Homo sapiens: one gene and its partners. The protein of the gene in region 4 purifies or fractionates together with the protein of the main gene of each other region. This does not show direct contact. Each region holds a gene or a part of one and is shown on either strand. Other genes may lie near its edges. The genes, in order: CDIN1, MMS22L, TONSL and ASF1B.

Evidence for each region.
Region 1: the proteins of ASF1B (region 4) and CDIN1 purify together in Homo sapiens (affinity purification with mass spectrometry; 5 studies listed by BioGRID and IntAct, with this or other methods). This does not show direct contact.
Region 2: the proteins of ASF1B (region 4) and MMS22L purify together in Homo sapiens (co-immunoprecipitation; 5 studies listed by BioGRID and IntAct, with this or other methods). This does not show direct contact.
Region 3: the proteins of ASF1B (region 4) and TONSL purify together in Homo sapiens (affinity purification with mass spectrometry; 6 studies listed by BioGRID and IntAct, with this or other methods). This does not show direct contact.

What each region holds. Positions count from the first base shown.
Region 1 is NC_000015.10:36,806,599-36,810,755, forward strand, and holds the end of CDIN1 (CDAN1-interacting nuclease 1), read left to right. Parts: intron 1-1,725; coding exon 1,726-1,855; 3' UTR 1,856-3,646; downstream 3,647-4,157. UniProt on the Homo sapiens protein: Plays a role in erythroid cell differentiation.
Region 2 is NC_000006.12:97,141,658-97,147,251, reverse strand, and holds the end of MMS22L (protein MMS22-like), read left to right. Parts: intron 1-364; coding exon 365-446; 3' UTR 447-5,091; downstream 5,092-5,594. UniProt on the Homo sapiens protein: Component of the MMS22L-TONSL complex, a complex that promotes homologous recombination-mediated repair of double-strand breaks (DSBs) at stalled or collapsed replication forks.
Region 3 is NC_000008.11:144,428,252-144,434,455, forward strand, and holds the end of TONSL (tonsoku-like protein), read right to left. Parts: intron 6,029-6,204; coding exon 5,727-6,028; intron 5,509-5,726; coding exon 5,337-5,508; intron 4,210-5,336; coding exon 4,034-4,209; intron 2,901-4,033; coding exon 2,827-2,900; intron 2,287-2,826; coding exon 2,153-2,286; intron 1,086-2,152; coding exon 892-1,085; 3' UTR 524-891; downstream 1-523. UniProt on the Homo sapiens protein: Component of the MMS22L-TONSL complex, a complex that promotes homologous recombination-mediated repair of double-strand breaks (DSBs) at stalled or collapsed replication forks.
Region 4 is NC_000019.10:14,133,583-14,141,552, reverse strand, and holds the start of ASF1B (histone chaperone ASF1B), read left to right. Parts: upstream 1-4,963; 5' UTR 4,964-5,096; coding exon 5,097-5,205; intron 5,206-7,970. UniProt on the Homo sapiens protein: Histone chaperone that facilitates histone deposition and histone exchange and removal during nucleosome assembly and disassembly. Cooperates with chromatin assembly factor 1 (CAF-1) to promote replication-dependent chromatin assembly.

The DNA of each region.
Region 1 (4,157 bases), on a different chromosome or scaffold from region 4:
AGGGGTGCTTCACTGATGGGAAGGTTTGTGGCTTCTCAGACATGGTCCACAGAATCACAAATCTTTCTGTTCTTGCCAGACTTGTTTTGACAAATCTGAGATCATTTGACACTAATCATAGAGCTCTTTGTAAAATAAAGGTACCAATGGTTTATGTTCCAATTACAGACAAGTGTTTGTGATTAAAAGTTACTAAGAAACCCTCGGTTAAATGGAAGCAAGTTCTTCTGCAGGTGTGAGCTTCGTCTTGTATGCATTTGAGCCTGGGGACCCACACACCTGTGCACAGGTAGCCTAATTCTACTGACCCCAAAGGAATCTCTTCTTTGGGGATGCTGAGGAAGAAGAGAACATCTGCAGCTGATAAATCTCAGTGGGCCTGGTGCTCCAAGGCTTCTAATTATACCCAGTTCCTACATCTTCTAGAACAAGATCAAGTGATGAGCTGCCATCTCATGGTTCTGTACCTGCACAGAGGGGAATCCCAAAGTTTTAAATAATCTTGAATACAACTTGGCTACCCCACTAATGTGGATCCCCAAATAAACCAGGCCGTGACATCCAATTGAACTTGTCCCTGTGCATACAGTATCTCGCAGCCCATCCTGTATTGTTAGTTTTGGCAAGTACACTACAGCATATAATAAATCATGGAAGGCAAAAGCTTTTTGGCCTAGCATGGTTCAGCCTGCTGTAATGTTAGAATACAGAAAGCAGTTCTGTTTTTAGACATGCTTTTACTAACCCAACATTCATAATTTATTATTTCACTGTAAAATTCCTGCAACACTACACCAAAAGTAGTGCTGCCCTTTAATTAAGTGCCCTCGGTAGGAAAAACGTGAAACTGATGTGCAAAACATCTCTCTGTGTGCAGTGATTGATAGTGATTACATCTTTATGAACCCAGCCTAAAGGTCTCAACTTCCTGATGGGTGAAGTAGTCCATAGGGCCACTTCCTGAGTCTGCCTGGCGGGGATCAGTCACTGCTAACAAAATTGCAGATAATTCAGAGGGCACAACTTAGAAATGCTGAGGTTTTATTAAGCCCGTAGCGATCTATACTTTGTCACAAGCCTATATGACCTTATTCCTCATTTCCGTAAGCACCAATGACCAAACTTTATGCTGTGTCCACACTTAAAGAAGTTGTAATGCAGAGAGTAAAGGGACCCAGTGTGTCATATGGATGACAGGAGGTACTTCCAGCCCAATGGGTGCATAAGTAGAACAGTATAGCCAGAAGAGGACCATAAGTTGTTGCATTTTTTTAAATTCTGTTTTCAAACATTCTTTTATTTTTCTTAGTTGCTATTAGGCAAGTTTAATTTTTTAAATAGTACCATTAAATGTTAGACTTAAATCCCAAGGCTGGCATTCCCCAGCTCATTCCTGTTTGCACTGTGAATCTGTCCTCCATCAGCTAGGTAGTCACATCAGCCCAAGCTCATAACACCTTACTGAAAGGTAAGATTCAGAGTTTCCATATCTGAAATACTTCAGGTTTCTGGAAAGAAAGGGAACACATCCATCCGAGAAGGTAGTATGTGTGTTATGTGAACTCTTTGGTATAAGTTTGGCTATTTTCAGTCACAATGGTAGCAACCAAAACAAAAATTTTGTGCAGTCCTGTCATTTAATCATCTTATCAGTGCCCCAAGGTGACTTTTTTCAAGAGCTCTGTTGATACCATGTGTGTGTGTTATTTTCTGGTGTTTTTACAGATTTGGGCCAGGCTTAGTCATCTATTGGTATGGATTTATCCAGGAGCTGGACTGCAACCGGGAAAGGGGCATCCTGCTCAAAGCCTGTTTCCCCACGAACATTGTCACCTTATGCCACAGCATAGCTTGACCCTGAAGATCCTGGAAGAGAAGCTGGGAGGAAAAGGTGAATCCGGAAGCAATTTTACTTTCCTGCACTGTAAGATCCTGGCAACATCTGCCCTGAACTTCAGCTGAACTCTTGCTGCCCGTAGTCACACCACTACCTCTTTAGACAAACATATCAAGAGTTTCTGTTTTCCTTCATCCCTTGCTGATGTGAACAGCCAAGAACTACAGACACAACCCACTCATTATCAGCATTTCTGTCTCTGTCAAACAATTAGTTTATAGATAGTCATAATCTTTCTTTCTTCCGGATGGTTTATCCTTGTATGCTGAACAAAAGAAAAAATGTGAAGACTGAAAGGTGTGATTTTTCAATTCTCCTCCCAGTTACCGAATCACCCTCTTATTTTTTTTTCCCTAAGCCTCCGTTCACTGTCTCTCCCTCTCCCTTTCTCTTCATGTGCACTCACAGAGACCCAGCATTGCATTACCATCGTGGAATAATCTAGCGCAAACCTAGGAAAGCTGAAGCCACAAAGTCCAAAGCCACCTTTGTACTCACCTGCAGAGCTCCAGAAGACCTTGATGGCAGCCTGCCTATGCTGTGTGTTTGCTATATTCAATCTTTACGGCTTCCTGACTTCTGTGACAGTAAGCCAAGTGCAAAAATACACTTGATGAGAATTTCCTCTTTTAATAATGTTATTTGAACACCACATATTTTAGATTTATCTTATTTGAAAGTATTAGTTCCATTGTGCCTGGAAACCACACTCCTTTAGATTGGGGGCCGAGAGGCGACAACCCAACATTGAGGAGAGTTTATTTTTAAACATGGCTAGTTGTCAGTATGTACGTGAGCTAGTATTTTTATGAGTCGAGTTTTTTAAAGGCACATTCTGTATACTGCTTAGTATATGCATTTTATACCATGTAATTATAAAACACTCGAGTAAGTTCAGCATTAGAAATGTTTAGCTTTGTATGAACTGAGTGTGCCAGAAATAAACCTGGAGCAATTTTTAAATAAGCAAAATAAAGGAGATTTTTCTATTTGTTCACTTTAATTTATTCACTTTTGTGTACTTTTATGTACTGCAAATCAGATTTCAGTCTAAAGCGAAACATCAGTAAGTTAATAATAAACCTATCTTTTGGGAAGTTGAATATTAATCTGTACCCAAAACGTATTTAGTAAAATATTTGCCCCCGCCACCCTGCCATGCTGACATAACAACTTTTATAATGTTGAATAGATGATATGGGAAATACTAATAACAACAATGTAATTTTTGCAGACAGCTTTAACTTATATACATTGCTTGATTTTTTTCAAAAGACTAAATATGTCATTTATACTTTGTTTATTTTCTACCAAAGAAGGTTTGTAAAAATATGCCTGCTGCTTTTCCTTTTGAAGGACACAAACCTGGTCCCAACATGTGTGGATTTTAACTCTGAGTGGGGTGCATTAAATCAAAAGAGAGAGGCAGAAGATGAAATGCTAAAGAAGGGTCAGGCAAACTTCTGTTTCAGTATAAAATTCATCATGCAGGCTTCTGAGTGAAATAGAATGATTTGAAACCACTACTGTATTGCCTGGATACACACACACACACACACACACACTTTATACAAAAATGTTAAAAGCAGGTTTCCTGGCATGTTCTAAACTGTTTTTTCTTTAGGAATAAATTACATTTATCTGCACAGATGTTGAAAATCCTGTTAAACCCTTGTCAAGGATTTGTTTATTTTACATTAAACAAATTTATTATGATGAACGTGAACAAATAAATTAAAAAATAAAAAAGGTACTTGCGTTTTGTATTTATTCTTTTACCTGCTGCCCTGACATAATGTGTTGTGAGAAGGTATTGGTGTTCCTAGCAAAGGCACTACCTCCTCTTTATGAATGAGGCTTTAAAATCTGGCCCTTAAAAGTGAGAAAGAACCCAACAGTAAACTGTACACACTACAATAAGGTTACAAATTAGTCAAAAGTAAGTTTTTCACACATAAAAACTAATGTGATAATTATACTACTTTTGAATTGGAGCTGTATGGGAGAGAAGAGAGTAATGTTCCCAACTGGAAGCTTAAAGTCTCCTTGGTTTGTTTCTTTTTCTGTTAAAAATACTTGTCTGTGTTCCATCTCTATGCATTGTCTGCTTGCTGGTTTTTTTAGTTTAGACAATATAAACATCAGCCCCAGAAAGTAGACACGGAATGACAACTTATTTTTATTGCTGTCATCATTAGAACATTAACATTAAAGCCAAATCTTGTTTTATGGTGCATTCTGCACACTATGCTAATGAATT
Region 2 (5,594 bases), on a different chromosome or scaffold from region 4:
TACTTACGCTTGTGATACAAGTCTTCCCATTGTAATCATACCATCATTGTCCTTAAATAATATTCCATGAATGCATTTTATTACCCGTGAGCATTATAATATTTCGGAAGGTTAATGAACTTTTACATGTCATTTTTAGCACACATTTTATATATAAAAATCATACTTTAATACATCTTAACATCTAGGTTTACTCACAATAGATATAAAGCATTACTTTTTAAGAAGTGTTGTGCTAAGCCTGCTGGATGGATGGCTGAATAGATGGATGGATGGATGATGGGCAGACTTAATTTGTAAATACTGAAATGAAAAATAATGAAAATGTTAATATATTTGCTTTCTTTTCTTTTTTCTTAAACAGGGAAGCCTATAGCAAACTTTTGTCTCACCTTGGACAGATGGGACAAGATGAGATGCAGAGACTGGAAAATGATAATACTTAATATATTTTGTGATTCATCCTGTCTATTAATTATCAGTATCTAAAGCCACATTGTTCCACTCTAATTCCTACTTTTAATTAATTGTATAATGTTCTGTTTAAAATAATTTCTAGGATTTTTTTTCCTTTTATATCTGTAAGTAAAAAATGTATAAATAAGGAACTGAAGGTTAATTAGCAACTGTGTAATAGGATCCTTGGAACTTTTTACAAAACTGCATTCTACCTTGATGAAATTTTAGTTAAACTAAATTAAAGAAACATTTTCTGAGAGTGTTTTCTGTGTGTGAGTATTAAGCAGATACTTCATCCATAGACTTTTTGTTGTAGTATGACTTCCTGCCTCCCTGCCTTGTGACTGATTTGTCATGTTTATTTTTTATTTTTACAATAATAGTTATGTTTTAAAATGATACTTTTTCAAAGTACCTGGCTACCCTATACTGTGTTTTTGGTGGGGGAAAGGTGTTGGGAAATGTGACTGTGTATTTGTTTTTCTTTTTTATATGTGTGAGGCAAGTTAACAAAGAAAACCCTTACAAAGCACACTTAACTGTGTTAGGAATGAGACTGAATCTGGCTAAAGGATTATACAGCTGATATCCAAAAAGAAGTGTAAACATGCCAACAGGGTTTATATTTAGGTTCCAAGAGTTGCCAAATTTTTTTTTTATTCATCCTTTCTTTTGGAGTTGTCATTAAAAAAAAAATCATATCAGGAGGAGGAAATAAAGGAGACTTTAAGAGGAGAGTAAATAAAAATATTCTAGAAAAGTAACAATAGTAGTGGTCTGAGAAGTCAGCTGATCCATCTTCTTGCTCTTTAGCCAGAGCTTCTTATAACTTAGCATTTTATCCAAGAAACCTGTTTAGTTTCCTTTAACAACATTGTTTCTCAACTTTTGAACTCTTAACTCATCCAGATTGTTTTACCAGTTGGAGCTTGTCCTTGACTCCTTTTCCTATTGAGCATTATTTGGTTGAAAGAGCTCCAGTCCTAGTTTTGGGAACCCACCTGGGTCTCAAACTCAGCTTTGCTTTATGATCTTGAGCTAGTTACGTAACCTTTCTCAGTCTAGTTTCTTCATGGAGAAGAAAAGAAGAATCCCTTTACTATTTGACAGTGTTGTTGTGAGAATCAATGGGATAATGTACGTGAAAATATTTGGTGGCCCAAATTCTGTTGGGAAATGTACAGACACGATTAGTTTATTACTCGTGCACAATTAAGGCAAAGAACACCTCTCAATTTTATCTTTCTCTAATGATATGTCCCAGATGAATGATCCCACTTTCCAATGTTTTCTTACATCATGTTTTCTAACTTTGAAGTACTTTGTTTCCTTCTTGGGATTATAGTCTTTATCATGGTTCTACTCTTCCTTCAAGAAAACATTTCAACCCTTCTCTGGCTCAAGGAGTATCTTTAAAAATGAAATACTTTGCAATCAGTATTCTGTAGTTAATAGCGTTCTCTTAATTATAATCTGTGAAATCCAAAGGAGTGTCTGTTATTTTCATAACATATAAATGGTCCTTCTCTCAAATCAGCTTCATCAAAGGGAATAAATGAAAGCTTAAGGCTGTTTAATAGACTTCATAACACTGAATTTCTTTTCATCATGATAGTGACTTACTAAACAAATAATGTATGGCTTGGAAAGTTCCAGCAGTCACTAAGGAGTTTTATCTATTTAAGGTGATGCCTTTAAAGAGGTTATTTATGTGTATATGTGTTTTTGTGTGTGTGTGTGTGTGTGTGTGTGTGTGTGTGTGTGTGTGGGTTTTTTTTTTCCAAAGGAGATTGATAAAGATACCTTTGAGAATCTTGCTCCTTAGAGTATGAAAACGTTTAAAGGATAGGAAAAGCTGCTACTGAATCATGCTTTAGGACATATATCTATAGATACTAAGAATAACTAAAATTTGTACTTAAGAATGGTAACAACAAAGTGTGTAACAATATGTGTGTGTATTATATGTTTTGTATTTATGTATAAGTAACTTTTTTTAAAGCTTTTTTTTAAATTGAAAAAAGAAGAAAATTTATGGCTCAGTTCCTTTTTTTTAAAATCTTCACTGATCCTTCACTTATTACTACAATCTTGCCCTCTTTCATTCCCAGACTTGGAGTCCCTTATACCTGCTTCTTTAATAGCCACTTTCCCTAAATACCCTGTAATTTCTGAGGCTGCTGCTTCTACCAGTGTAATACAAGCCATTGTCTTTTGGTCAAATCTGAGTTTGTTCTCCTTTCTCATGTTCTTTGTCCTCTCTGTGACAATTGTATTTTCTTTTATCTTCCCATCATTTCCACAATGGTACTGCTCCTTCCTACATATACAGTTGACCCTTGAGCAACACAAGTTTGAACTGTGCAGGTCCACTTATATGTGGATCTAAAATACAGTATTTGTGGGATGCAAAATCTGAGTATATGGAGGACCAACTTTTTGTAGAGGCAGGTTCCTCAGGGTTAACTGCAGGACTTGAGTAAGTGCAGATTATGGTATGCACAGGGGATCCTGGAACCAGTCCCCAGACCAAAAATGACCACTGTATCTTGAGAGCACCTTCATGGTCTTCTTTCCTGTCCCCAGTCGTAAGATACGACCCTTCATCTGCTTTGTCTCAACATTCTGTTAGTGGTGAACTGATAACTCCAGCTTTTCTCTCTCTTTTTTTTTTTTTTTTTTTTTTTGTTGTTGTTGTTGTTGTTGTTTTGAGGCAGAGTCTTGCTCTGTCGCCCAGGCTGGAGTGCAGTGGCACGATCTCGGCTCACTGCAAGCTCTGCCTCCCGGGTTCACGCCATTCTCCTGCCTCAGCCTCCCAAGTAGCTGGGACTACAGGTGCCCGCCACCACGCCCGGCTAATTTTTTTTGTATTTTTAGTAGAGACGGGGTTTCACCATGTTGGGCTCGATCTCCTGACCTCATGATCCGCCCGCCTCGGCCTCCCAAAGTGCTGGGATTACAGGCGTGATGAGCCACCTAGTGCTAATTCATCTCTAAACCTCTGTAGTTGGAGTCTCCTGAAATCTCAGACTACCTCCTGCTTTCATTTTCTACCCAGGGAATACACTATTGTCCTAAGTTATTTAGCCTTGAAATGTCAGAGGCATTTTAGGTTCTTCATGTTTCTCCCACTTTCAGTTGATTACCATTACAGGATCTTAGGCTTCTTTTTATCTTTTTGCAGTGCCTTGCATCCACTGGTTGTTTGTTTTTTCTGTTGGGCACTACTTATTTCCTTACCTCTGGTTTCTTCTCCTACAGCTTATGTTCTGAAATGTGTATTCCTAAAATACTGTTTTCCTCTTGTTACTTTTCTGCTCGAGGACTTCCAGTAACTTACCATTGTTTATAAGGTGATGTTCAAACCCTTCAGTCTGGAGACTTTCTGCCACCTATCTGACTGTACCTTTATCTTCAAGCTTATCTCTTTCCAAACAAGAGGCTCATTTAGCAGCTTTCTCTGATTGCCATGTTCATCCTACACTCAGCCTCATTCAGTTTACAGCATGGAAACTGTATAGGACCTCTTTCCTATAGAAATTGAAGACACTTAAATAGGAAGAAAATTAAAATATACATTTGGATACATGAGTATTCCAGTCAAATAATATCTATAAAATACCAGATAGAGTATAAAAGACAACTGAAGGACAACAGAGTGATGAAAGGACTTTATTAGGCATTTGGATTTGGTTATGATTTAAATTTCAATTTAATTAGAACGTTTCCATGGCAAGGAAGGAAGCATGGAGGACTGTGGAAAAGTCATTCAGTATTGAGTTCATTTGCATTAGAGGAATTTCATAGTTTAAAACTTGTATATCTTTACCTATCCTTCGTATGTTTTCTTCTTAAGCATATTTGACTTTTTCTACCTCAGCATCTGTATAAGAAAATATTTGTGAGTCAGATGTTTGTGGGTTTTCCTTACCTATTATTATTTTCTTCCATGCTTTACAACACATTTTTTAAACTACCTTGTTCTTAAATAATTACACGGACCTGCTTCTGTGTACTTTCACAGAATCTTTGACAGTTAAAAATTGTATGTTATATAAAAATTTGACAAGCTTCTACAGTTAGGAAAAGCCTTTAGAAATCTGCCTTCCCCAAACCGTATGTTATCATAGCACTCATGTCTCCCCATGTCTAAAAGGTAAATAGATACAGAAACCTCACCAAAAGTTGAATCATCTGTACTAAACCACTGCTTTTTTATCCAGACTTTTTATATAAATCTTTTATTTTCCAAAAAACTGATCTTTTACCTACCCCTCTTAGAGTTAAAAATATTGCCTGTCAGGCAAGAGTATAGTATGCCAATATAAATAATATGCTTTATTTGGTTAGAAACAGTTGGTTTGGGAAGCTAGCAACATAGCATATTCTTTACAAATTTAATAAGGTGTATTTTGATACTGTGATAACCTGCATTGTAAATTACCAAATGGTTGGAATTGACCAGTTTATACTTATTAAAATTTTTGATGTGCCAATGGCTATCCAATTCATTGCATTTGTGAATTGTGCTTTTAGAAAAATTGTGGACATTTTAGTTTTATATACATATTTATGAGTTATTTGTGCATATGATAAAATTATATATAATAATAAAAGTATATATGTAACTTACATTGTGCCCTTGATTATTGAAAACTTCCTTTTTATAACAGATTCACTGTTTGGAAGCTAAAGTAAAAATGAGCCATGTTACCAGAAGTAATAATTTCTATCTTATTACTGATGTTTTTATACTTTGTGGTAAAACTATGGAAAGTTAGGTTTTCAGATGCTGTGGTAGCTGAAAGAGTTTGATGTACATGTGGTTAAAGTGTGAAGAAAATATGAAGGAAAAAGTATGAAAAGTACCCTAGTCATTACCTAATTGCTATTTTGTTTTTAAGGATCTAAGAAGTGTTATTGCATTGTACAGATTATTTTAGAAATTCACATCTTTGCTGGCTTTTCCTTTAACACCAAGAATATCTGTTATCATCTGTTTGGTACTGTGTTTTGTTTCCTCTTTTAAAGTAAAATATTGAAGTGATATTTAAATGTTTGCAAGTCTCATGACCTTCCTATAGAAATTCACATTAGTATAATAATTTACATTACAAATACAATATAGCCTTTAA
Region 3 (6,204 bases), on a different chromosome or scaffold from region 4:
GAGCTTCTGCCTAACAGCGAAAGCGGACGTTCTGCGGCCACAAGCAAATGTGCAAAACAACCTCGCAGAGTGGACAACGAGCAAGGAAAGCCAGTTTCTAGAACATGCCAATAACGTGACTTTTGCGGCGCTCAGCCGAAGCTGTGCCGGGGCCTAGGCGCGCCCAGAGGGTGCCAGGCCCTGAGTCGCCTCTCCCCACTCTGCCCCTTCCCCGCCCACCGGCCGGGCCCCGGGTACCTGGACGGCTCGCGGTCGGGAAGATGGCGCCGGGGGCGGGGTGCGCTCGGTCAGCGACTCGGCATTCGCCCCTCATGTCTGCGCCTGCGCGCGTCGGGGCGACCCCCCGCCCCTCCGTCCCCATCGGCAGCTCGGCGCTCAGCCCTCACGCCTGCGCCCGCGCCCGCCCGGACTTCGGGACATTCCCTCCAGCCGCGCAGCCCCCGGGACGTAACCGGCGCAGCAGACTCGAAGCCCGGTCTTACCCCGCCCACCCGCCTGCCAGGCAGCCACGGGGAGGGAGGCAGCAGCTTCATTTATTTTATTTTTTTTTTTTTTTGAGACGGAGTCTCGGTCTGTCGCCCAGGCTGGAGTGCAGTGGTGCGATCTCGGCTCACTGCAAGCTCCGCCTCCCGGGTTCACGCCATTCTCCTGCCTCAGCCTCCGGAGTAGCTGGGACTACAGGCTTCCACCACCACGCCCGGCTAATTTTTGGTATTTTTAGTAGAGACGGGGTTTCACCATGTTAGCCAGGATGGTCTCGATCTCCTGACCTCGTGATCCGCCCGCCTGGGCCTCCCAAAGTGTTGGGATTACAGGCGTGAGCCACCGCGCCCGGCCAGCAGCTTCATTTATTAGGGGCTTCGGTGAGGGTGGGGAAAGGCAGCGCCAGGGTCAGAGGCGCCGAAAGAAGAGCTTGGAGCCGTGGTCCAGCGTGCACTCGCCGGGGCCCGGCCGACTGGGCTGCAGCTGGCGCAGGGCGTCCCTGTCCTCAGCGCAGAGGCGTCTGCTGCACAGCTGCAGTTCCCGGAGCTGCGCGGCTATCTTGTCCCACAGGCCCAGGCCCAGGGGACCCTGGACGGCGCAGCCTGCGGAGGGGAAGAGGGCAGACCTCAGCGCTGCGGGGGCCGGCGGCGTCCTGGTGCCCGCGGCAGGCTCCAGGGAACAAACTCGCTTTCGCTGAGGGCCCCAGGGCTGTAGCGAGGGGCAGTGGGCAGAGCTCCGGAGAGGCCCCATGACTCTCCAGGAAGGGGTGGGATCATCTGCACAGCCAGCGGTCAGACAGGAGGAAGGGTGGCTCCCTTCTTTACCTCTGACAGTGCCCGATCTCAAAGTCCATGCCTACACGTCAGTCTCCCCACCCATAAGAAGGACATAATGGATCTGCTTGCAAATCTGTACATCGTGGGCCTGAGTGGATCAAGAGAACACTAAGCTCAGGAATTCAGGGAGCTGGGTGGGAAGGTACAGATGCCAGGAACTGAGGTGTGGGGAAGGGGTCTCACACCAGCACTCGGGGGCCTTCCTGGAAAAGGCGGCCTGGCCCTGGGAGGTGAAGGGGAGGGGGCACAGGAAGAAAGCAGAGCCCCGCTTCGTGCACATTCACTTAAGCCCTCATCCCCTGGAGGGCACAGCCTGCCCCGGCCCCAGTGGGGCAAGCCAGGTCATCAAAGCCCTTCCTGGGGTTGTCTTCCAGACAGCTCAGGTTGGGGACTGCCCTGATGTGGCTCAAGAGAGAACAAGCTAAATCAGACCACAGCCCTGGGCAGGGTTGTGTCAGAGGAGCCCCTGCCAGGAAGTAGGAGGGTCCCTTGGCAGCTTTCAACACCCTGACCTTGGGATCCCTTTTCCTGCCAGGGACAAGAAGAAAGTCCCTGTGGAACAGGGTCTTGCCTACCATAGTCTGCTCTGAAGGTTGGGTTGGAGAGACCAGAGGCAGATACCCACCTCGCCCCCTAACCCATGGTTTTAGGAGCTGGGATCATGCCCCTTTTCTGTCACTGTCACTCTGCCCCCTGCTGCCCCAGCCTCATGGAGCCCAGCCTTGCTGCCTGGCTGGTAGCAGTGACAGCCCCTTAGGAGGAGGCACCTGGGTCTCAGGCAGGTCCCTGAAAAGGCCGAACATGGCAGGCGTGGCCACCATACCAGCACTCACCTGACAGGCCAAGGAAGCTAAGGCCTTGGGGCCGCTTTTGGAGGGTGGACAGGAGCTCTTCCAAGCTGGCACAGCTGATCTCAGGGTTGGCAGACAGATCCAGTGAGATGAGTGAGGGGCACAGAGAGAGACATCTGAGATAACATGGGAAGAAGTGCAAAGGTTGGCTTCCAGAGAGGCTGTGCCCCAACACTAGGAAAGCTGCCCAGACAAATGCCAGCTCAGGGAGCCTCGGGCCAGACCCAGGGGCTCTGCCTCAGCCTGGCCCAGTAGCAGGTGGCCCTCTAGGGTTGGGGGTCCTTCCCAGGGGTCAGGGCCACAGTGGCCAGCTCTGGGTGTGCCTGGCCCAGCTTGGGCTCCTCTCAACACTCCCCAGAGAGCTGACTGAGGCTCCAGGTCATAAGAGCAGTGCCCTCATGTGGGCCGAGGCACAGGAATGACAAGGACACCCCCGGAGGAGTGCTCTCAAGAGCCACAGGCCCATGCTAAGAAAGAAGCCAGAGGGTAGTCTGCCTTCCAGGGCAGCCTGAGAGGCTGGTGGAAACCGAAGGAGCCAGGTCTTGGGATGTGCTGGGGAGGAGGAGCTGGTACCATTTCTGTGGCCCTTCTCCCATAGGGTCCAGAGCCATGAGATCAGACCCCCAGGTCAGCAGGCAGCAGGGAAAGGGCGTTACCTGCACAGGTCTCTAACAGCCTTGTCCCCCAGGTGGTTTGCAGACAGGGTCAGGTGGGCTAGAGCACAGCCTTCCTGGACATGAGCAGAGGCCCAAGGGGGCCAAACGGAGTGGCGCACCTGCCCTGCCTGCTTCCCAGCAGGTGCACCACACCCAGGGGCCCAGAAGGGAGCAGAGTCCCCCATCAAGTTGGAGATCGGAAGGAAACACCTCTCCTGATGTGGGTCACACTCTGCACGTGATAGTGTGAAAATAATAGGGTCCCAGTTGTGCCTGGAAGACCCCCCAGGAGAGAGCATCAGGGGCCCTAGTGTGCCCCTTGGGACCTTCCTGGCGGGGGGCAAGATCACCCTGAGTCCCGGGTCCTATCTGGTGGGCAGGAATTCACAGCCTGAGACAGGCAGCTGTACAAAAGCATTCCCCCAGCTGTTTTTTTCTTTTTTTGTTTTTTTTTTGAGACAGAGTCTCGCTCTGTCGCCCAGGGTGGAGTGCGGTGGCGCCATCTCGGCTCACTGCAAGCTCCGCCTCCCGGGTTCACGCTGTTCTCCTGCCTGTCTCCCAAGTAGCTGGGACTCCAGGAGCCCGTCACCACGCCCGGCTAATTTTTTGTATTTTTTAGTAGAGATGGTGTTTCACCATGTTAGCCAGGATGGTCTTGATCTCCTGACCTCGTGATCCGCCCGCCTCGGCCTCCCAAAGTGCTGGGATTACAGGCGTAAGCTACCACGCCCAGCCTGTTTTTTTCTTTTTCTTTCTTTTTTTTTTTTTTTGAGACGGAATCTCGCTCTGTCACCCAGGCTGGGTGCAATGGTGCAATCTAGGCTCACTGCAACCTCTGCCTCCCGGGTTCAACCAATTCTCTGCCTCAGCATCCCGAGTAGCTGGGATTACAGGTACCCGCCACCACGCCTGGGTAATTTTTGTATTTTTACTAGAGACAAGGTTTCACCATGTTGGCCAGGCTGCTTTTGAACTCCTGACCTTGTGATCCACCCCCTTCGGCCTCCCAAAGTACTGGGATTACAGGCGTGAGCCACCGCGCCTGGCCCCCCAGCTGTTTTTTCTAAACCTCCAAACCTCTAACTCTCTCTGTAGAGCCCCTCAGCGAGTTCAGCCCGAATCTGGGGAGAGGCGAGCTCCTCCCAGCAACCCTGGGACCTTTGGCCTCTGAGGCTCAGTATTTTCTGGGTTCTTCCCCACCTCGTACCTTGGCCAGGTATCGGAATACAGGCTCCATGAGGTCCGAATCACCCTTGCCGGCTGCCACGGAGCTGAGCTCTAAGTGCAGGAGGGTGCCGGCGGGCAGGCTCTGCAGGGTCCTGGCCAGGGCAGGGGCTCCCAGGGCGTTGTAGGACAGGGACAGGGTCTTCAGGTGCTCAGCATCTGCACCGGGGCCAGAATCCGTCAGCCCCACGTGGCCACAGCCCTGTACCCACCCCAAGTTCTGGGCCCAGAACCCTCAGGACCCCTTTGGGGAAACCACTACCGCAGTGCTCGCAGGGTGGGGTGGCAAGTGCAGAGGCAAAGGCTCTCGCCCAGATTCTCCCAGCTGGGAGGGCGGGGCCAGACTTCCAAGCTCGGCTGCCCCCAGTTCTGGACAACTTGCCCTCTCCCACCCCACAACCACACGGTCCTGGGCCACATGCCTCTGCACAGTGGGGGTGCCAGGGGAGTGCACTGACCATTGCTGCCCCCCTTACACTCCCCCTGGATGACACCCAATTCCCAGCCTCTTGGCACTGGGACCCCAGTCTCTGCAGCCTGAGTGGGCTCACAGTGGAACTGCCTCAGGCGAACAGCACTCAGCTGGCGAGCACGGGATGGGGACCACAGGACACTAGCTGCCCGGACTCTGCTCTCGGTGTGTCCTGCGGGGGTCAGCCTGGCTGGGTGGGCACCAGACGCCCCTCGGAGGCAGACCCTGTACCCACACATCCATCTATTGCTCCCAGGTGCCAGGCCCTCCCGGAGAGCCAGGTCTGGCATCCCAGGCCCCTAGACGTTGTTTGTTTCGTTTTTTTGACACGGAGTCTTGCTCTGTCGCCCAGGCTGGAGTGCAACGGCGCGATCTCGGCTCACTGCAAGCTCCGCTTCCCGGGTTCATGCCATTCTCCTGCCTCAGCCTCCTGCGTAGCTGGGACTACAGGCACCGGCCACCACGCCCAGCTAATTGTATTTTTAATAGAGACGGCGTTTCACCGTGTTAGCCAGGATGGTCTCGATATCCTGACCTCGTGATCTGCCCGCCTTGGCCTCCCAAAGTGCTGGGATTACAGGCGTGAGCCACTGCGCCCGGCCTAGACGCTTTTTTCTTAAGGGATGGGGTCTCACTATGTGGGCCAGGCTTTCCTGGAACTCTTGGCTCAAGCGATACTCCCGCCTCAGCCTCTCAAGTAGCTGGGACCACAGGTGTTGCCCCTGTGTGCCCAGCCTGGGCCCCCTCTGAAAGTCCTGGAAACCCTCAATGCCCCAGGGCTAGGGAGTGGACAGGGAGTGCCTGGTCAGCTCACCTTGGAAAGCACTACCCAGTGCTGTCTGGTGGCTCAGAAAGAAGCTGGGGCCGAAGCCACACGCCTGCAGGCGCAGGGTGCTGAGTAAGGGGCAGGCGTGCAGGAGGGAGGCCAGGGACTGGCCACAGCCGTCCCCCAGGGGGTTCATGCTTAAGTCCAGCTCCTCCAAACTCTGTGGAAGACACAGGCTGGCAGTGAGCCCCCAGCAGTCCCACGGACAGGGTCCCCCTTGGGGCTTGGCTTGGCAGTCTCTTCCCCACCTTGCCTGGCATAGCCTATTACAGCCGGGCACTGGCTGGCTCTCCCAACTACCCTAGACCACCCAGGGACCTGCAGAATGGGAACCCCAACTCCCCGCTGTTGAGGGCCTGCTGCTCTCTGTGCCTATACCTGCAAGGTGGCTTGGCCTGGGAGCCCCATGGCAAGCTGGCGCAGGCCTTCGGGACCCAGGTGATTGGAGGAGAGGTCAAGGAGGGCCAGGCTGGGCATGGTGCCCAGGGCAGCCACCAGCTCAGCCACACACTTGTCCCCCAGCCGGTTCCCTGCCAGGCGCAGCTCCCGGAGTGCTGTGTGCAGCTTGAGGGCCCGCAGCAGGGGTGTAAGCTGGGCCTGGTCCAGGGCCAGGGAGCAGGCGCTGAACGAGAGGCCCAAGCCCTGGAGCTCCACGGCCTGCAGCACCTGTTGGTGCTCCCCTGCGGGAGGGATGTGATGTCACCAGGGTAAGGCCGGCCCTTTCTGCCCTCTGAATCCCAGAGGGCAAACCAGGCAGCCCCTTTTCAACAGCCCCAGGGGTCACCCACCAGACTTGCTGTAGAGCCCACTCGCACATGCCTGTGGGTCTAGCACTGTGAGGCCCTGGGGGCCGGGG
Region 4 (7,970 bases):
TCATGTTTATTGAGTACTTTTCACATTCCAGGTACTATGCTAAACCCACCCTTTACATAGATTTATTCTTTTTTTTTTTGAGACGGAGTCTTCCTCTGTCACCAGACTGGAGTGCAGTGGTGCAATCTAGGCTCACTGCAACCTCCACCTCCCAGGTTCAAGCAATTCCCCTGCCTCAGCCTCCCAAGTAGCTAGGACTACAGGTACGCACCACCACGGCTGGCTAATTTTTTGTATTTTAGTAGAGACAGGTTTTAATCATGTTTGCCATGATGGTCTCGATCTCCTGACCTGGTAATCCGCCCACCTCGGCCTCCCAGAGTGTGTGACTCACTGCGCCCAGCCAGATTTATTCTTTTTGAAAAATTGATTGAGGACTTTCTATGAGCCACGTCCTCTGCTAAGCTCTGGAAGTACAACATTGAGAGGTGTGAGCTAGGCGAGATCTCTTCTCACAACCAGCTTTCAATCTACTGAGGGATGATGAGATAATAAGCACAATTTAAAACCAAAATAAGTAGAAATTCTTTTTTTCTTTTTAAGATGGAATCTCTCTCAGTTGCCCAGGCTTGAGTGCAGTGGCGTGATCTCGGCTCATTGCAGCCTCTGCCTCCCCGGTTCAAGCAATTCTTCTGCCTCCTGAGCAGCTGGGACTACAGGCACGTGCCACCACGCCCAGCTAATTTATTTATTTATTTATTTATTTATTTTGTATTTTTTTTTTTTAGTAGAAACGGGGTCTTGCCATGTTGGCCAGGCTGGTCTCGAACTCCTGACCTCAAGTGACCGGCCCGCCTTGGCCTCCTAAAGTGCTGGGATTATAGGTGTGAGCCACCATGCCCACCCGAAAATAAGTACAAATTCTGATATGCGTTACTAAGATCATAAAACTGAGTGATGTGATTAAGAAAAAGCTACTTTATTTATTTATTTATTTTTTTTGACACGGAGTCTTGCTCTGTCACCCAGGCTGGATTGCAGAGGCACGATCTCAGCTCACTGCAACCCTCACCTCTCAGATTCAAGCGATTCACCTGCCTCAGCCTCCCAAGTAGCTGGGACTACAGGCGCCCGCCACCACGCCCGGCTAATTTTTTGTATTTTTAGTAGAGATGCGGTTTCACCATGTTAGCCAGGATGGTCTCGATCTCCTGACCTCGTGATCCGCCTGCCTTGGCCTCCCAAAGTGCTGGGATTACAGGCATGAGCCACCGCGCCCGGCCAAGAAAGTGCTACTTTAAATAGGGTACTCTGGGAAGTCTTCTTTCAGAGGACATTTGAGCTGAACCACAAGCGAAGAGAAAGAGACAGCCATGCAATTATCTGGAGGAAGCACATTCCAGGCAGAGGGAACGGCAAGTGCAAAGCCCTGCGGCAGAAATAAGCTGGGTGTGTTGAAAGAAGGGAAATAAAGCCAGCTGGGCTTGAGAGCGGTGACAAGAGGAAGAATGGTAGATGAGGCCTGAGAGGTCAGCTGAGGCCACCACGCAGGGCCGCCTAAGCCATAGGAAAGATCTTAGGTTTCATTCTAAGTAGGATAAGCCTCTGAAGGTTTTAAGCAGAGTAATGACATGATCTGGTTTACAAGTGAAGATCATTCAGCCAGCTGTAAGGAGAATGCATCATAGACAGGGCCACATTCTTCATTAGCGCCACGGAAATAATGCTGGTGGATCATGAGCTTCTCAGGGGCTACGAAAAGGTCAGGGACAGGGATAAAGGGAAAAAAGTTCCACAATGCAAAGAGAAAACTACAAAGTTGGAATGAATAAATGTTTAATTAAGCATCTAGAAATGTGACATCATGACAACTGCATTAATCATTAAATTTAGTATTCATAAGCAATCGAATTACATTTGGAAATTAGATTTTCTCAAATCACAAATATCCCTAAGTATGCAATGATTGCCAAGAAATCAAGCGAATCATAAATGTGAGTTTCCTTGAAGCCAAATAATTTCAAAAGAATAAAAACAAAGCTTTCGATTTTTTAACAGCTAAAAAGAATTTTTCTTAACTTAATGTGAGATGTAGATACCAAAAATGGGCTAGGCGCTGTAATCCCAGCACTTAAGGACAAGATAGGTGGACTGCTTGAGGCCAGGAGTTTCAAGACCAGCCTGGGCAACAGCGAGACCCTGTCTCTACAAAAAATTTAAAAAGTATAAGAGGCAGGGCACGGTGGCTCATGCCTGTAATCTCAGCACTTTGGGCGGCCGAGGTGAGTGGATCACCTGAGGTCAGGAGTTTGAGACCAGCCTGGCCAACATAGTGAAACCCCATCTTTACTAAAAATACAAAAATTAGCTGGGTAAGGTAGCGTGTGCCTGTAGTCCCAGCTACTCGGGAGGCTGAGGTGGGAGAATCGCTTGAAGCTGGAAGCAGGAGGTTGCAGTGAGCTGAGATTGCGCCACTGCATTCCAGCCTGAGTGACAGAGCAAGACTCCCTCTCAAAAAAAAAATAAAATAAAATAAAACAAATTAGGCATGGTGGCACGCACTGGTGATCCCAGCCACTCGGGAGGCTGAGGTGGGAGGATCACTTGAGCCCAAGAGTTCCAGGTTATAGTGAGCCACGATTATGCCACTTGCACTCCAGCCTGGGCAACAGACCTCTATTAAAAAAAAAAAATCCCACAGGAACTGGATTGTTTAAAAAGAAAAGGAAAAGGAAAACATACTAGCACAGTGAGTGAGTCCTAGTGAGCCCACAGAGGTGACTGGGTAAGAAATACTAGTGCCTTGGCTCAGTGCTGTTCAGGCGTACGGCCTGTGAGTTTGAACACTGTCCAGAGCACCCTTAGAAAGGCCTCTCTGGGGAGAGGACATTTGAACAGAGACTTGAATGACAAGAAGGCATAAGCCATGCCAAGAGCCTAGGAGAAGAGGTTCTGGGCAGAGGCTTTGCACTGGGAGTGGCTTGTCAGAATTTTAACAAAAAGAGGGTTACTTAGCCTGGTTTGAAGTTGGAGCTGGGTGGTTAACAGGAGACAAAGCATAGAGTTTCAAAGACAATGCTCTCATCCGGAGAAGTGACCTGGTCAAATGTGTTTCTGACCTTCGCTGTCCAGTAATACAGGAGCCACTTGTCACACGGGCTCAGGAGCACTCAACTGCGGCTATCAAGACAGCTAAACTGAACTTTCTTTTTTAAAATTTAATTTTAATTTTTAGAGACAGGGTCTCACTCTGACACTCAGGCTGGAGTGCAGTGGCTGGAGCATTCTGGGCTCAAGAGATCCTCCTGCCTCAGCTTCAGGAGTAGCAGACACTACAGGTATGCACTACCACACCTGGCTTATTCTTTTATTTTTTGTAGATATGAGGTCTTGTTATGTTGCCCAGGCTGATCTTGAACTCCTGGCCTCAAGAAATCCTCCATGACCAGCCTCTAAAATTACAAATAATAATAAAAAAAGATATGGCCGGGCACAGTGGCTCACGCCTGTAATCCCAGCACTCTGGAAGGCCGAGGCGGGCGGATCACTTGAGGTCAGGAGTTCGAGACCAGCCTGGCCAACATGGTGAAACCCCGTCTCTACTGAAAATACAGAAAAAAAATTAGCTGGTTGTGGTGGTGGGCACCTGTAATCCCAGCTACTCAGGAGGCTGAGGCAGGAGAATCGCTTGAACCCGGGAGGTAGAGGTTGCAGTGAGCCGAGATCGCGCCATTGCACTCCAGCCTGAGTGACAGCGCGAGATTCCATCTCAAAAAAAAAAAAGTGGCTTCCAAAAAATGTTAATTTTACACCTAATTTTGGTGCGCGGCTGGCATTATTTTTCCACTGGGCAGCACTGATCGCCCGTGGGGGCAGAGACTCTGAGACCTGGAGTCTCCCAGGCCGGGGGCGACGGCCCAGACGGGAGGCGGTGGAGAGAAGTTTCCGGATGTATTATGTGGTCATGAATCATGTCAGGGAATTGCCACGGCCCCCGTTGAATGGGGAGGCGCTGCCTCGGGCGCTGAGTAGCAGAGCCCGGACTCTGAACACTGGTCTGCCCCCGAACTGGAACTCCCATTTTCAGTACCGTCCGCTTGAAACCTCCCAAGAGCCCTCAAGGGGGCGAGAGAGGGATCCAAACCCCTCGGGGGCGAGAGCGGGATCCGAACCCCTCGGGGGCGAGAGCGGGATCCGAACCCCTCGGGGGCGAGAGCGGGATCCGAACCCCTCGGGGGCGAAAGCGGGATCCGAACCCGGCCGGATTCCCGAGGTCTGAGCGCGCCTCGTGACCGCCACTCCGAACGTTCGCAACGTTCACAACGGACTCCCGCGCCGCTGGACCTCAAGGGTCAGGAGCCACTCAGAAAAGCTCCAGGAAACGCTCACCTGTTGACAGACGCTGAGGCCGCAAACGCTCCTCCTCTCTCTTCACACTCGCCAACACCGCGGTGGCGCTCGACTTCCGCTTCTCTCCAGCGAATCCCCAGCTGAGCCTCCTTCTGCTCCCGCCACCATTACCAATCCAGCCAATAAACTCTCAGAAAACCCTCTTTATCTCCGCCCCACTCCCTCCTGCCAATCACTTCGGGTGCGAGCACCGCCCTTCCCGCCTTCTTTAGCGAGCGCCGCGCGCCACCGCTCGGCGGGTGGCGGCGCTGCGCGCTGCGGGATGCATCTCCCGGAAAAGCGAGGCGAGGGGCGGGCCACGCCGGTGCGGGAACCCTCAGGATTGGCCAGAAGGAGGCCGGCGCTGTGACTCCGTCCATTCCCGCCGTTGACATCCAAGTCGGAGACGCTGGGGATTGGTTTCCAGCGGACACGCTAAGAAGCTTGGAGATAGTTTCGCCCTCCTCACACGCTGCGGAGAGGGAGCTCCGCTGATTGGTCCGAGGAGTCTGGGCGCGCGCCGATCGGCGCTCCAGGACTGGCTGAGGGGGTGCGCGCGCCGCCAGGGAGCGTTGGCGGTGATTGGCCAGAGGGCGGAGGCCGGCTATTTGAAGGCGGCGCGCGGACTAGGTGCGCACTTCAGTTCTCGGAGAGAAGAGGCGGGAGTGGACCTGGTCAGCCCTACCCCACTGACCCCACCGGACCCAGGCGCGGCCTCCGCCACAGCCACAGCCCCTGCCCCTGCTGCGGCGCGGCGAGGCGAGGCGATGGCCAAGGTGTCGGTGCTGAACGTGGCGGTCCTGGAGAACCCGAGCCCTTTCCACAGCCCCTTCCGGTTCGAGATCAGCTTCGAGTGCAGTGAAGCCCTGGCGGACGGTGAGGCTGGGCCTGTGCGGGGACCCCCACCCCCGGGCCGACCCCGGCCTCCCCTCAGAGAACCGCTCCCATGGCCAACTTGATCTCCCCCATGAAACCCCTCGTCCCCCTTCCGCCAACCCCGATCTCCCCCAGCCCGCCAGTCAACCGGATCTCCCGGTGGAGACCCCCCGCCACCAGCCAACACGGACCTCCCCGTGACCTCCTCCCCCACTGCCCGCCTTGACCTCCCGGGTGGAGACCCCCCGCCAGCTAACTCGGACCTCCCAGTGGCCTCTTCCCCCACTGCCCGCCCCGACCTCCCCATAGAGATTAACCCCCTCCAAGCCCCATTTCCCGCGTGGGGAACCTCATCCATCTTTTTTCTCTGGAGCTCTTCCTAGGTACCCGTTTTCATGGGGAGACCTTCTCGGCCTCCATTTCTTAACCCACGGAGATCTTCAGCCACCGTGGTTTCCCTGTGGCAAGACCCCCGCTTCAACCACCCACCCATTTTTGCCCACTTATTCCCTCTTTCCTGTAGTGAGATACTCACACCTCCCATTTTCCCTCTGGAGACCCCCAATATCCAGCCCCTTCCCATTTTCCCCGGGGGAAATCCCAGCCATCTCCTATTTTCCCTATGGAGACCTCTCACCCAAGCTCCTCTCTCCTTGCCGTGAAGACCCTCCCCTCCAGTAACCTTTTTTTCCTGTGAAAACCCCTCAACCCCTTTTCAGGACCTCTCTCAACCCCATCTTCCCATTTGTGTCCCACCAGTCCCCTCCCCAACCTGCCAATATTTCAATAACCCCACGCCCACCAGTTGCTGCCGCTTTTCTGCCCCAATGCACATACCCTGGAACCTGGTTTCTCTCCTTCGTTGGGGCCCAACCCCCCTATGCTTGAGCTCTCCCTGGGAAAGGATGCTACCGTCTTTGAGGGGAACTTTGTCTCCCCAGCTCCCCTTCCCCACCTTTCTCTGTGGGCTTGGATAAACACACTGAGATCCGAGGGGTGGCATAGCCAGGCAGGCATTAGCTAGTTCTCCAGGTTTGCCCACCCGTTTCCAGCTGAGTTACTGCAGCAATTTTTCTGTCACTTTTTCTTTCTTCTTCTTCCTCTTCTTTTTTTTTTTTTTTTTTTTGAGACAGTCTCACTCTGTTGCCCAGGCTGGAGTGCAATGGCACGATCTCGGCTCACTGCAACCTCCACCTCCCGAGTTCAAGCGATTCTTCTGCCTCAGCCTCCCGAGTAGCTGGGACTACAGGCGCCTGTCACCACGCCCAGCTAATTTTAGTATTTTTAGTGGAGGCAGCGTTTCACCATGTTAGCCAGGTTGGTCTCGAACTCCTGACCTCAAGTGATCCACCCGCCTTGGCCTCCCAAAGTGCTGGGATTACAGGCGTGAGCCACCGTGCCCCGTCTTCTTCTTTTTTTTTTTTAATATAGCTGGATAATCAGTGCCAAGCTCCCGTTGCTTTTGATGGTCTGACCTAGTCTGGGGGGTGGGTGGATTGGGCTGAGCTGTGACGGGCTCCAGCTTCAAACAGTCGGCTGGAGCTTGGAGGTCACAGCCTCCTGTACATCTTTTCCAAGGTGCTTCCGTAGATGTACTTATTAATCTGTGTGACTTAAAGGTGGGCATGGCTCTCATCTCACAGATGAGAAGACAGGAGCCACAAAACGCAAAAGACCTTTCAAGTCAAGGCCTGTACAAATCCAAAATCTAAGGTCACCTAGGGAGCCTTGGCACCACTAACAGGCAAGTCCTGCTTTCAGGAAGAAGTACTCCATTAGGCCATTTTTCTACTTGGTGGTTGAAAGAGAAAAGGCAGCAGCCGAGGAGGTGGTGATCTGGGGGCCTGTGAAGCCAGGATATGCTAACTAGTGCCTCTCGGGGGCAGGTAGGTGTTTTGCCCTCAAAGCTGGTCGCCTGGACTAGCTTGGAGCTGATAGAGTGAGATGTGGATGTGCTTTGGGTAGGCCAGTGGGTCTGTCTCTCCCCGGTCTCTCTCGCTCCTTTTTAAATTAAGGAGTCTACTTGTGGCTAACTATAGAATATGCCGAGTTAAATCCTTTCTGGAACAAGGCAGCGGGTAAATAAATAAATAAAGTGTAGAATGACGCTGTGGAATAAGATTTAATTTAAAAGCCAGGAGGAGATGGAAGGAAGTAATAGGTTGAGGGATTCCCAGCTCCCCGACGGCAGGAGATCAGGTTTCAATCAGCCTGTTTGTGTTCCTTGCATTTAAAAATGGTTGTGGCCGAGCGCGGTGGCTCACGCCTGTAATCCCAGCACTTTGGGAGGCCGAGGCGGGCGGATCACGAGGTCAGGAGATCGAGACCATCCTGGCTAACACGGTGAAACCCCGTCTCTACTAAAAAACACAAAAAATTAGCCGGGCGTGGTGGCGGGCGCCTGTAGTCCCAGCTACGCGGGAGGCTGAGGCAGGAGAATGGCGTGAACCCGGGAGGCGGAGCTTGCAGTGAGCCGAGATCGCGCCACTGCACTCCAGCCTGGGCGACAGAGCGAGACTCCGTCTCAAAAAAAAAAAAAAAAAAAAAAAATGGTTGTGCGGTCATTATCTGGTACTTCTACTCCTAGGAAGCCCCTGCCCTGTGACTTTACTAACTTATTTATAGAATTAGAGCCGGAAGGGCTAAATTCAACCTGCTGGTCCTTTTTTTGTTTTTTTGGAGATGAAGTCTTGCTCTTGTCCCCCAGGCTGGAGTGCAATGGCGCGATCTTGGCTCACTGCAACCTCCACCTCCCAGATTCAAGC